Linked DNA regions of Homo sapiens: region 2 is linked to region 1. The links come from fine-mapping of genetic effects on gene expression. A gene starts in region 1. The other region holds a variant in brackets. All regions are shown on one strand. Distances are between the middles of the regions.

The links. PIP is the estimated chance that this variant, and not a neighbour inherited with it, causes the effect. A credible set is the group of variants that fine-mapping cannot tell apart.
Region 2: its variant is the best candidate, but not a certain one, in a credible set for the expression of RAB3GAP1 in monocytes (Quach 2016, PIP 0.79).

Annotation. Positions count from the first base shown.
Region 1 is chr2:135,049,058-135,054,439 of GRCh38, forward strand. RAB3GAP1 (RAB3 GTPase activating protein catalytic subunit 1) reads left to right here and starts at 3,235. Exons shown (of 24, transcript NM_012233.3): 1 at 3,235-3,268; 2 at 3,373-3,428. The coding sequence starts at 3,251. RefSeq lists an enhancer at 3,808-3,947.
Region 2 is chr2:135,100,184-135,105,565 of GRCh38, forward strand. All of the region lies in intron 5 of RAB3GAP1 (RAB3 GTPase activating protein catalytic subunit 1), which reads left to right. Among named protein-coding and RNA genes, the nearest start is that of SNORA40B, 34 kb to the right of the region's middle. The variant GA/G (reference allele first, on the strand shown) is at 2,823.

The sequences.
Region 1 (5,382 bases):
GCGGAGCTTGCAGTGAGCCGAGATCGCACCACTGCACTCCAGCCTGGGCGACTGAGCAAGACTCCATCTCAAAAAAAAAAATTAGCCGGGTGTGGTGGCTAGTGCCTGTAATCCCAGCTACTCGGGAGGCTGAGGCAGAATTGCTTTGAACCCAGGAGGCGGAGGTTACAGTGAGTCGGGATTGTGCCACTGCACTCCAGCCTGGGTGACAGAGTGAGCAAGACTCCGTTCCCACCCCCCCCAAAAAATGTAATCTTCTGGCTATGCGCAGTGGCTCACGCCTGTAATCCCAGCACTTTGGGAGGCCAAGGTAGGAGGATTGCTTGAGCTTAGTTGTTTGAGACCAGCCTGAGCAACATAGTGAGACCATGTCTCTGCAAAAAATAGAAAAAATTGCTGGACGTGGTGGTGGGCACCTGTAGTTTCAGCTACTCAGGAGTCTGAGGCAGGAGGATTGGTTGAGTCCAAGAGTTTGAGGCTGCAGTGAGCTATGATCATGCCACTTCACTCCAGCCTGGGAAACAGAAAGACATCCTGTCTTTAAACAAAAAAGGAATCCTCCTTTTGTCTCTCATTTTGAGATAGAGTCATTCAAACCATTCTCTTTTTCAAGAAACTCAATGTTTAGAAATAGTGGAGGGATAGGCATACAAAACAAGGACAATATCAGGCTGCCCTAGGGCTGTGTCAAAAGCTCTAAGGAAGCATGGAAGGGGAGTGTCTGACTTCCTGGGTTGAGGGTGGGGGATGTATGTTTGCCTAGGGCTGCTTGAACAAAATGCCACAGACTGGAAGGCTTAAACAACAAAAATTTATTTGCTCACAGGGCTGGGCGCCGTGGTTCACACCTGTAATCCCAGCACTCTGGGAGGCCGAGGAGGGTTGATCACCTGAGGTCAGGAGTTTGAGACCAGTCTGGCCAATAAGGTGAAATGCTGTCTCTACTAAAAATACAAAAATTAGCTGGATGTGGTGGCACATGCCTGTAATCCCAGCTACTCAGAAGGCTGAGGCTGGAAAATTGCTTGAATCTGGCAGGTGAACGTTGCAGTGAGCCAAGATCTCACCACTGCATTCCAGCCTGGGTGACAGAGCAAGACTCCATCTCAAAAAAATATTTTTTTATTTGCTCACAGCTCTGAAGACTAGAAGCCCACGACCAAGGTATCAGCAGGTTGGGTTTCTCCTGAGGCCTCTCTCCTTGGTTTGCAGGTGGCCACCTACTCTCTGTGTCCCCACATGGCCTTTCCTCTGTGTGTGCACATCCCTGGTGTCCTAATCTCTTCTCATAAGGACACTAGTCAGATTGGATTAGGGCCCACTCTAGCGGCCTAATTTTAACTTAATCACCTCTTTAAACACCCTGTCCATAAATACAGTCACATTTTGAGGTACTAGGAGTTAGGGCTTCAACATATGAATTTTGAGTGAGAATCCAATCGATTACCACCAAACTGGTTGCAAATACAAATAAGCTCCTAACAGGGGGCAGAGAAAGTCTTCACAGAAGAGCAAATATCCAAGCTGAAACTTGAAGGACAAATTTTACCAGGTAAACTATAGACACAAGGACATTGCAGATTCTAAACGACAGCATGTCCAGAGGAAAGAGAAAGCACAGGATGTCGAAAACATTGTAGGTGCATGTTAAAAGAGGCTGTCTATTAAAAGAGAGTGGCAGACACAAAAGATGTGCTGCTCAGACCTCCCTTAAAGAAAGACTCACTGCCCAGCTGTAAGGCGTGTGGTTAGATGAACAGCCTACGGCTGTTGGGTTTATCAGGTTTGTCTAACTGTTGAGCCAAGGACCTGCTATTCTTGGAGTGCTTCCTCCAGCCAAAAACTGAGCAAACAGTGATAGCCAAGGCCACTGTTTTCTTGGGGAGATCCTGGCCAATGATTGACGGAGCAAGGCAGTAGTACAAGGGGCTACGCATTTCCTGATGCATAATTTTTGCCCTAGCACTTCCAGTTGGACTTCAGAGACTTCGCCAGCTTGGAATTGTAGTGTCTGCTTTTTTAGAGCACCAGTCTGAAAAAAAAATAGTGAAAAAGCAAGCTGCAGAGTGGGAGAAGGTATTTGCTACATATATAAACAATATAAAGCTCAGATGCAGAATATATATAAATAACTTGAAGGTGTTAAAATAAAGACAAGGCCAGGCACAGTGGCTCACACCTGTAATCCCAGCACTTTGGGAGGCCGAGGGGGGCGGATCACAAGGTCAGGAGATCGGGACCATCCTGGCCAACATGGTGAAACCCCATCTCTACCAAAAATACAAAAATTAGCTGGGTGTTGTGGCGCATGCCTGTAATCCCAGCTACTCGGGAGGCTGAGGCATGAGAATCACTTGAACCCAGGAGGCAGAGATTGCAGTGAGCCGAAATCGCGCCACTGCACTCCAGCCTGGCGACAGAACCGAGGTGGGCAGATCATGAGGTCAGGAGATCGAGACCATCCTGGCTAACACGATGAAACCTCATCTCTACTAAAAATACAAAAAATTAGCCGGGCGTGGTGGCGAGCGCCTGTGGTCCCGGCTACTCGGGAGGCTGAGGCAGGAGAATGGCGTGAACCCGGGAGGCGGAGCTTGCAGTGAGCCAAGATCGTGCCACTGCACTCCAGCCTGGGCGACAGAGCAAGACTCCGTCTCAAAAAAAAAAAAAAAAAAAAAAAAAAAAAAAAAAAAATGAAGCGTTTGTTGAACACCATGTTGCTCTTCCCAGAAACCAGGTAACTAGTATGATTTTATTTCAGGACAATCAACTGAGCAACTTCTTGCAGGGTCAGGGGCAGAGGGTAGAAGTGGTATTACAGCACCTAGTTTATTGCCTTACAATCAATAAATAGAGGGTGAATGAAAAGAAACCCAATAGTTAAAGTGTAAGCTAATTGGTACTAACTACAAATATGGGTTGAATGAAAACAAACCCAACATGCTTTAGGTTTTTTAATACAATCTTATCCACATGAGTTTAGGGTCTTGTCCTATCACCTTGGCTTCTGTTCCCTTTCTGTATTCATCACAGGAAATTTTCAAGTTTTATGAAACCAGCTAGAGCGGAGTTTTATTAACCAGCTGAGGGCGGACTAAAGACTTAACAGACCTGGGCGAAGAAGCAGCACTCCTACTTACTAGGGCAAGACTCATGAACAGGGGGCGGGGGCTCCGGGGGCGGGGACGCGCCCCGTTCTCTTTCGCTCTTCTTCCCGGCAGCCTTAGCGCCAGGCCCGGCGCTCCTCAAGATGGCTGCCGACAGTGAGGTGATTTCTTTGCTCCCTACTTAATCCTTGTCACTATCTAAATTCGTTCCTCATGTCTTCGCCTTGGGGCTTAATTTCTTTTTCTCTCCTTCCCCTTCCCGCAGCCCGAATCCGAGGTATTTGAGATCACGGACTTCACCACTGCCTCGGAATGGGAAAGGTGAGTGAATCGCATTTTTGGTTACCAGCTCCCATGGGCCCTGGCGTCCCCTAGCCGCTTCCCTGACCCCAGACACACCACAAGTGACGCCACTTGTGCGGGAACGGTAATACCGTGGGTCCCGGGTCTCCTCCCCCAGTCTTCTTTGGTCAACCGCAAGCCTCTTCCGCGTCTCGCGTCTGGCAACACCCGGCCCGCCCCCGTCAGCCAATCCCTGAGGCTCAGGCTCTCAGAAAGTTTTGTTTTCTCTCCTGTCAGACCGCTTCCCTTAGACTTTGGTTTTCTGGTTGTTACCCACTCGCAAGAAAAATTTCCGAGGCTGCAACAACCGTTCCGGTTTTCATTACCGTTTAACTCATTATCGTAAGCAGTAAACTTGGTAGGTTGTGCCGCACCTCATCCCGTGTACGTTGGTATACCCTTTTCAGGAGGAAGTCTTTCTTCAGAGTATTGGTAGTTGTCCATCTGTCACACTCCCACCATCTCCATGCTGTCTTTAATTTTTTATTTTTATTTATTTTTGGAGACAGAGTCTCAGTCTGTCCGCCCAGGCCGGAGTGCAGTGGCGAGGTCATAGCTTACTGCGGCCTCGAACTCCTAGGCTCAAGTGAAGCTCCCGCTTTAGCCTCGGGAGGAGCTGGGACCACAGGCACGCGCTATTACGCCCAACTAATTTTTTAAAGATCTCGCTGTGTTGCCCAGGCTAGTCTTGAACTCCTGGGCTCAAGCCTGGGCCGCCCAAAGTGCTGAGATTACAGGCGTGAGCCTCCGCCCATCCTGTCTTTTAGAATAACCTTTTTAAAAAGTCTGCATATGGTTTTGGAATGCTTTGATTTAAGTTGTTACATTAAAGTGGGTACTGTGCCCAGGCTTCCTGTGCCTGTCAAATTCAGATGAACAGCTGTCTGGGTGAAACTGTTCTATTACTGAAATTAGTTGAAAGCCAAGTTTGTGGAGGAGTGATAGCTTAGATCGAGAAGGTTTCTGTTAAGTGTCACAGAAACCCTTCAGTTTCCTGGGTGTTGAAGTCAGTGTTTACGCTGTTACAGCATTTTATAATCTTTCTGGTTGGGAGAGGAAATTTGTGGATGTCGTGTCATTAGGTGGCACAGGAAAATATAAAAGGTCCTTGTTGGAATAATAGTTAGACCTGTGGTACCCTTCATAAAAGTGTCAGTAAGACATAACCACACTGGCAAGACTTCATTGAGTAGGTACTGGGTGTCCAGAGCTATATACAAAGGGAAAAGCAGAAACTTGACCCATATATTTTTAAAAAACAACAAACAGCAAATAGTTAAAATGTAAGCCAGTTGGTACTACCTGTAAAAATAATAATTAAAATAATTATTATTTAAATAGGGGTGATATTGTGGACTACAATAGTTGGAGATATTTTCATAGAAAAGATAGGAAATGAGCTGGGCCTTGAAAGTGGGAAGTGGTTGGTTAAACATGAGAATGGACTGACATGGGTAGAGACATAGGTGAGAATGAATCTTTGAAGGGACTGAATGAAGAAATATATCTTCACTAGAGTGAAGACTGTCTATTGAAGGGAAATAAATAAGGTTAACAAGGAAGACGGGATTGGGTTATGGACATCTTCCCAAACTAAATACAGGAATCCAGATTCAGTATTCCTATGACCAGTGATTCTCATACTTTAATGTACATCAGAGTCTTAGATTGCTGGGCCCCATCCTCAGAGTTTCTGATTCTGTAGGTCTGAGGTGGGACTGAAAATTTTGCTTGTGTAACACGGTCTCAGGTAATTCAGATGCTGCTGGTCAGGAGACCACACTTAGAAAGAACCACTGCTTAAGACAATAGTGAGAGACCCTTCGTTTTAGAGTGGCCAGGTGATATGATGAAAGTGGTTTTAGGACATGATGTAGAATAATGGTGGGAGACTTAACTTGATTCATAATTAGGATGGTGATTTGTGGACTGG
Region 2 (5,382 bases), 51 kb after region 1:
AAATACATGGTATTGTCAGACGTAAACAGACTTTTCTTCCATCATTCTTGTTCTCTTCAGTCTAGCACAGCATAGTCAGTTTTGCAAACAGTTTTATAAGTCAAACTAACAGACTTTCAGCAGTAAAAGGCTTACCCTATAAAATCCCAGCTCCCAGTGCCCAGCTGTTAGGGCCTATAGCCAAAGCTGATCATCCCCTGGTATTTTTCAGTCACCTTCTATGCTCGCTTTTGCCTTTCAGTATACTCTTTGTTTCTGTTACCCAGGAATCTCCTTTTTATTATTTCAAATTCAGCGGTGTATTTTGACAGCATTGTCATATTTGATCAGGTATTTCTGTGTGTTTTGGGACAAGGAGGGCCTGTGTCATGTTAGTTTGCCGTATGGTTGGAAGTCACTTTCAGTTTTGTCTTACTTGACCTTTCTTAAAGTTTAGGAAGCCAACAACAAAGCTTTTGAGAACTGTTTAAAAGTTAAGCATATTAAATGTATGTGTATTTTCTTTTATTCAACAAATATAATTTTTAAACATTTACTGTGATCCAGATACAGAAATATCAAGAATAAAACATGGTTACTGCCTTAGTAATCTATGGGATTAATAGATAAGGGAGTAGACAACAATAACATTTTGTGATAAATGCTCTCATAGGAGGCAGAACACAAGTTTGATGGAAACTCATAGGAGGTACCTGTAATTCAGACAGATTAAGTCAGGAAAATGTTTCCAGACAAGGTGATACCTCACATGAATCCTGAAAGACAAGTGAGAATAAACCAGGTGAATAAGCTTAATTAATAAGTTAGGTAAAAAGATACTTGAGGCAGAATTAGTAGAGGTGATGATGTTTAAATGCACTTTTGAAACTTGTAGGTAGTTTGGTAAGGTTGGGTATAGCAGTAGAGGGTTGGGAATGGGAAAAGATGAGAAGGACTTTGGTATGTGGGTATTTTAAGACTAATGTGAACCAGACATCTTAAGAGGATTTCATAATATTCTCCTTCTGTTTTATTCATATAATTTTTATTGTAATTGTTAATAAATACATTTCTCAAAAATTTCAAGGATACAGATTACTTGTAATGCTTCAGAGATACTGAAGAATAACATACACAGAAGTTTTCACCTAAACATTTATTTAAATTTGAATTTTAAAAAGTTAAACCAGAATTAAAGCAATGACAATGAAAATTTGAAAACGATTTTGCAATATATGCATCTGTACTTATTTATACCATAAATATACAATTAGTATAGGTTGACCCTGTCAGAGTGATTTAAAATTACTATATGATTAACTTATATTTTCAAATCAAATTCTAGAAAATAGATTTTTGGGATTTATGTCCAATGCTCAATTTTGGTAGTTCGAGTTTGTCTATTAATCTTTATCTATTTTAAGATCTTCTCGTTTCAGTTTTCATATCAAGCACCTCTCAGATTAGCTCCAAGCCTGTTTAACTTTGTTAAGGGACTTTTATAAAAGTGGACTTTAAAAGATATGTGGGCATGATCAATTTTATGTTCTTGGCAATGTAATTGATCTTAATGATGTGTTTTGCTGGATGTATTTCAGCCTTCTGATATACCTATCCTTTAAATACTTTTCTTTTTTTATTTTCTTTAAATATCTTCTAGTGGGTGTTTCCTGAAACCATCATTACAGATTTATTCTCTTGATTGTTATGCTTCATGATAATATAAATAGCCCTGGAAATGACACAGACTTTAACCGTAGCAAACATTTATGTCCAAATGGAAATTCATGAGCAGAGATTTTAATAGCAAGGTGTGGTAGGCAAGATAATGAACCCTGCTAGCCCCCAGAGATGGTCCACAACCTAAATCTTAGAACCTGTGGATATAAGTTATGTGGCAAGAGGAATTAAGGGAGCATTAACATTAACATTGCTTAGCAATAGACTTTAAGGTAGGGAGATTTATCCTGGATTATCTGGGTGGACCCAGTATAATCACAGGAGTTCTTAAAAGTGGAAGAGGGAGACAGAGGAGAGTTAGTGTCATAGCGGTATGAGAAGAACTTGGTCCCAGTAATGTAGGTTTTTAAGATGGAAGAAGAGGGCCATGAGCCAAGTAATGAGGGTAAGCCTCTAGAAACTGGAATGGGTTCTGCGCTAGAGCATCCCGAAGGGACACAGCCTTGCAGCTACCTTGAATTTAGCCTTGTGAGACCTGTTTCAGACTTCTGACCTGCAGAACTATAAGATGATCAATCTGTGTTTTTTTAAGTCACCAAATTTGTAGTAATTTATTACAGCAGCAATATGAACTAATACAGAAAGTAACAGCATGAAAGCTGTAGATGCCTGGAGAGGCTCTACTGAGAGTGGAACAATACACTGAAAGCACAGCTAGGTTTAAGGGAGGACACATTTTGTCCCCATGGCTCTGCCTTTGTTGAGCGTTGTCTTTGGGTCTTTAGCTTTAGTCATGCTTTATTGGTCACCACAAAGGAACAGTCCACAAATAATCTTGTGAAAACTGTGTAGTTGAATAATTATTATGGCTTTTAAGAAATATTCATTTTTGTCTGGGCACGGTGGCTCATGCCTGTAATCCCAGCACTATGGGATGCCAAGGCGGGCGGATCACGAGGTCAGGATTTCGAGACCAGCCTGGCCAACATAGTGAAACCTCGTCTCTACTAAAAATAACAAAAATTAGCCGGGCGTGGTGGCGCACACCTGTAGTCCCAGCTACTTGGGAGGTTGAGGCAGGAGAATTGCCTGAACCCGGTAGGCAGAGGTTGCAGCAAGTCAAGATCGCACACCAGACTGGGCGACAGTGCGAGACTCCGTCT[GA/G]AAAAAAAAAAAAAAAATCATTTTTGTGATTTTTTTTTTTTTTTTTTTTGAGACGGAGTCTCGCTGTATTGCCAGGCTGGAGTGCAGTGGCGAAATCTTGGCTCACTGCAACCTCTGCCTCCTGGGTTCAAGCAGTTCTCCTGCCTCAGCCTCCCGAGTAGATGGGATTACAGGCATATGCCACCAAGCCTGGCTAATTTTTAGTATTTTAGTAGAGATGGGGTTTCAATGTGTTGCCCAGGCTGGTCTTGAACTCCTGAGCTCAGGCACTCTGCCCACCATGGCCTCCCAAAGTGCTAGGATTACAGGCACGAGCCACCGTGCCCAGCCTTATTTTTGTGACTTTAATGTATTTTTTTCCTGGTAATAGAGATACATGTAAAAGAACCTGACAGTTTTGAGAAACCAGCATTTTAGACTAGCCCTAAGGACCTGTAAAGTGTTTTCATTCTTCCAAAAGTGAATGTTAAGAGGACTTCTTGTAATGGCAGTGTGAAGTGGTTAGTGATTCCTCTTTGCTAAAGGGGAATTTTTTTAAAAGGCATTAAACTGGACAGAACTGTCAAAAAACAACCATTTCTGGCTCCTCTTCCTGTAGCTGTTTCTGTCACCTCCCCTCTTCTCTCTAATCTATGTTGGTGATAACTGAGCTTTCTAGTCTAGGCTGGCCATGAAAATACCACCTCTGTTGCCAGATGAGCAGGTTTAATTCTTTGTTGGCGGGGGAGGGAAGGTACAAAAACTTTTGCCTTTGCCAAGCAAAAGGAACAGATTCTGTTGGGAACAGATGGGTAAAACCTGTACCTTTGTTAGACCAAGGTTGCAGTCCCAATTCGAGGCAAGTGATGGATTAGTCAAAAATTTAACAAGGAGATCTTGTATTACAGCCATAGAAAGACAGATACCCTCTCTACACATCCGTAGATGACAGGAAAACTACATATATGCAGGAGAGACCCAGCAGAGCTCAAACTGGAGTGCCAGTTGCAATTTTGAATGCATTCCCCAACCCACACACAGATCATTTAGCAGAAAGTGAAAGGAAAACCTTATAGGCTCAGGTGTTTGGGCATGATCTGTGCTCAAATTATTGGTTTACCTGCAAACTATACAGACAAGAGGTAGCTGCTAGAGAGCCAGGCTAAAACATTGAAAATAAGAATAAAGCAATGGAATAGAGATATCAGAGGCTGCACACTGTTGAGGAGACAGTTTCCTCAGTGTAAGTCCAGGCAAGTTATGAAATACAAACAAATTGAAAAAGCTAACAACCCTCAGAAAAGTTAAACAGAATATGGTCTTGCTACAATGTATTATCAAAATATAGAGTTTTCAACCACAAATTACTAGATGTACAATGAAACAGAAAAGTGTGACCCATACAAGGGGAAAAAATAGTAGAAATGGACTCTTAGTGGGTCTAGATATTAGATTTAGCAATAACATCAAAATATTTATTACAAGTATGTTGAGAGAATTGAAGGAAAGGGTTTTCAAAGAAATACTAACAGTGAGTTACATAGGAATCTCAATAAATAGAAACTGTAATAAAGAACCAAATGGCGGCCAGGCGTGGTGGCTCATGCCTGTAATGCCACCATTTTGGGAGGCTGAGGTGGGCAGATCACTTGAGGTCAAGAGTTCAAGACCAGCCTGGACAACATGGTGAAACCCTGTCTCTACTAAAAATACAAAATAAATAAATAAATAAATAAATAAATAAATAAATAAAATTAGCTGGGTGTGGTGGTATGTGCCCATGGTCTCAGCTACTCAGGAGGCTGAGATAGGAGAATCACTTGAACCCAGGAGGCGGAGGCCGCAGTAAGTTGAGATACTGCCACGGCACTCCAGCCTGGGCAACAGAGCGAAACTCCATCTCAAAACAAACAAACAAACAAAAAAACAAATGGAAACTCCAGAGTTGAAAAGTATAATTGAAATGAACTTTCTTCACATGGGCTCAAAAGCAGATCTGAGATGATAGAAGAAAGAGTTGGGGGATTTGAAAGATTAACAGAAATTGTCCAGTCCAAAGAACAGAGAAAAAAGTTTGGAGAAAAAACAGAACTTCTGAGATCTGTGGGTCAGTGTCAAGTGTTCCAAAGCATGCATGTAATGGGACTCCCAGGTGAAGAGAAAGAAAGTGGTAGAAAAACAAATGTGAGCTCTCCCTCTCCCTCTCCCTCTCCCCCTTCCCTCTCCCCCTCCCCCTTCCCCCTCCCGCTCCCCCCTTCCCCCTCCCCCTCTCTCCATGGTCTCCCTCTGATGCCAAGCCGAACCTGGACTGTACTGCCGCCATCTCGGCTCACTGCAACCTCCCTGCCTGATTCTCCTGCCTCAGCCTGCCGAGTGCCTGGGATTGCAGGCACGTGCCACCACGCCTGACTGGTTTTCGTATTTTTTTGGTGGAGACGGGGTTTCACTCTGTTGGCCGGGCTGGTCTCCAGCTCCTAACCGCGAGTGATCTGCCAGCCTCGGCCTCTGGAGGTGCCGGGATTGCAGACGGAGTCTCGTTCACTCAGTGCTCAATGTTGCCCAGGCTGGAGTGCAGTGGCG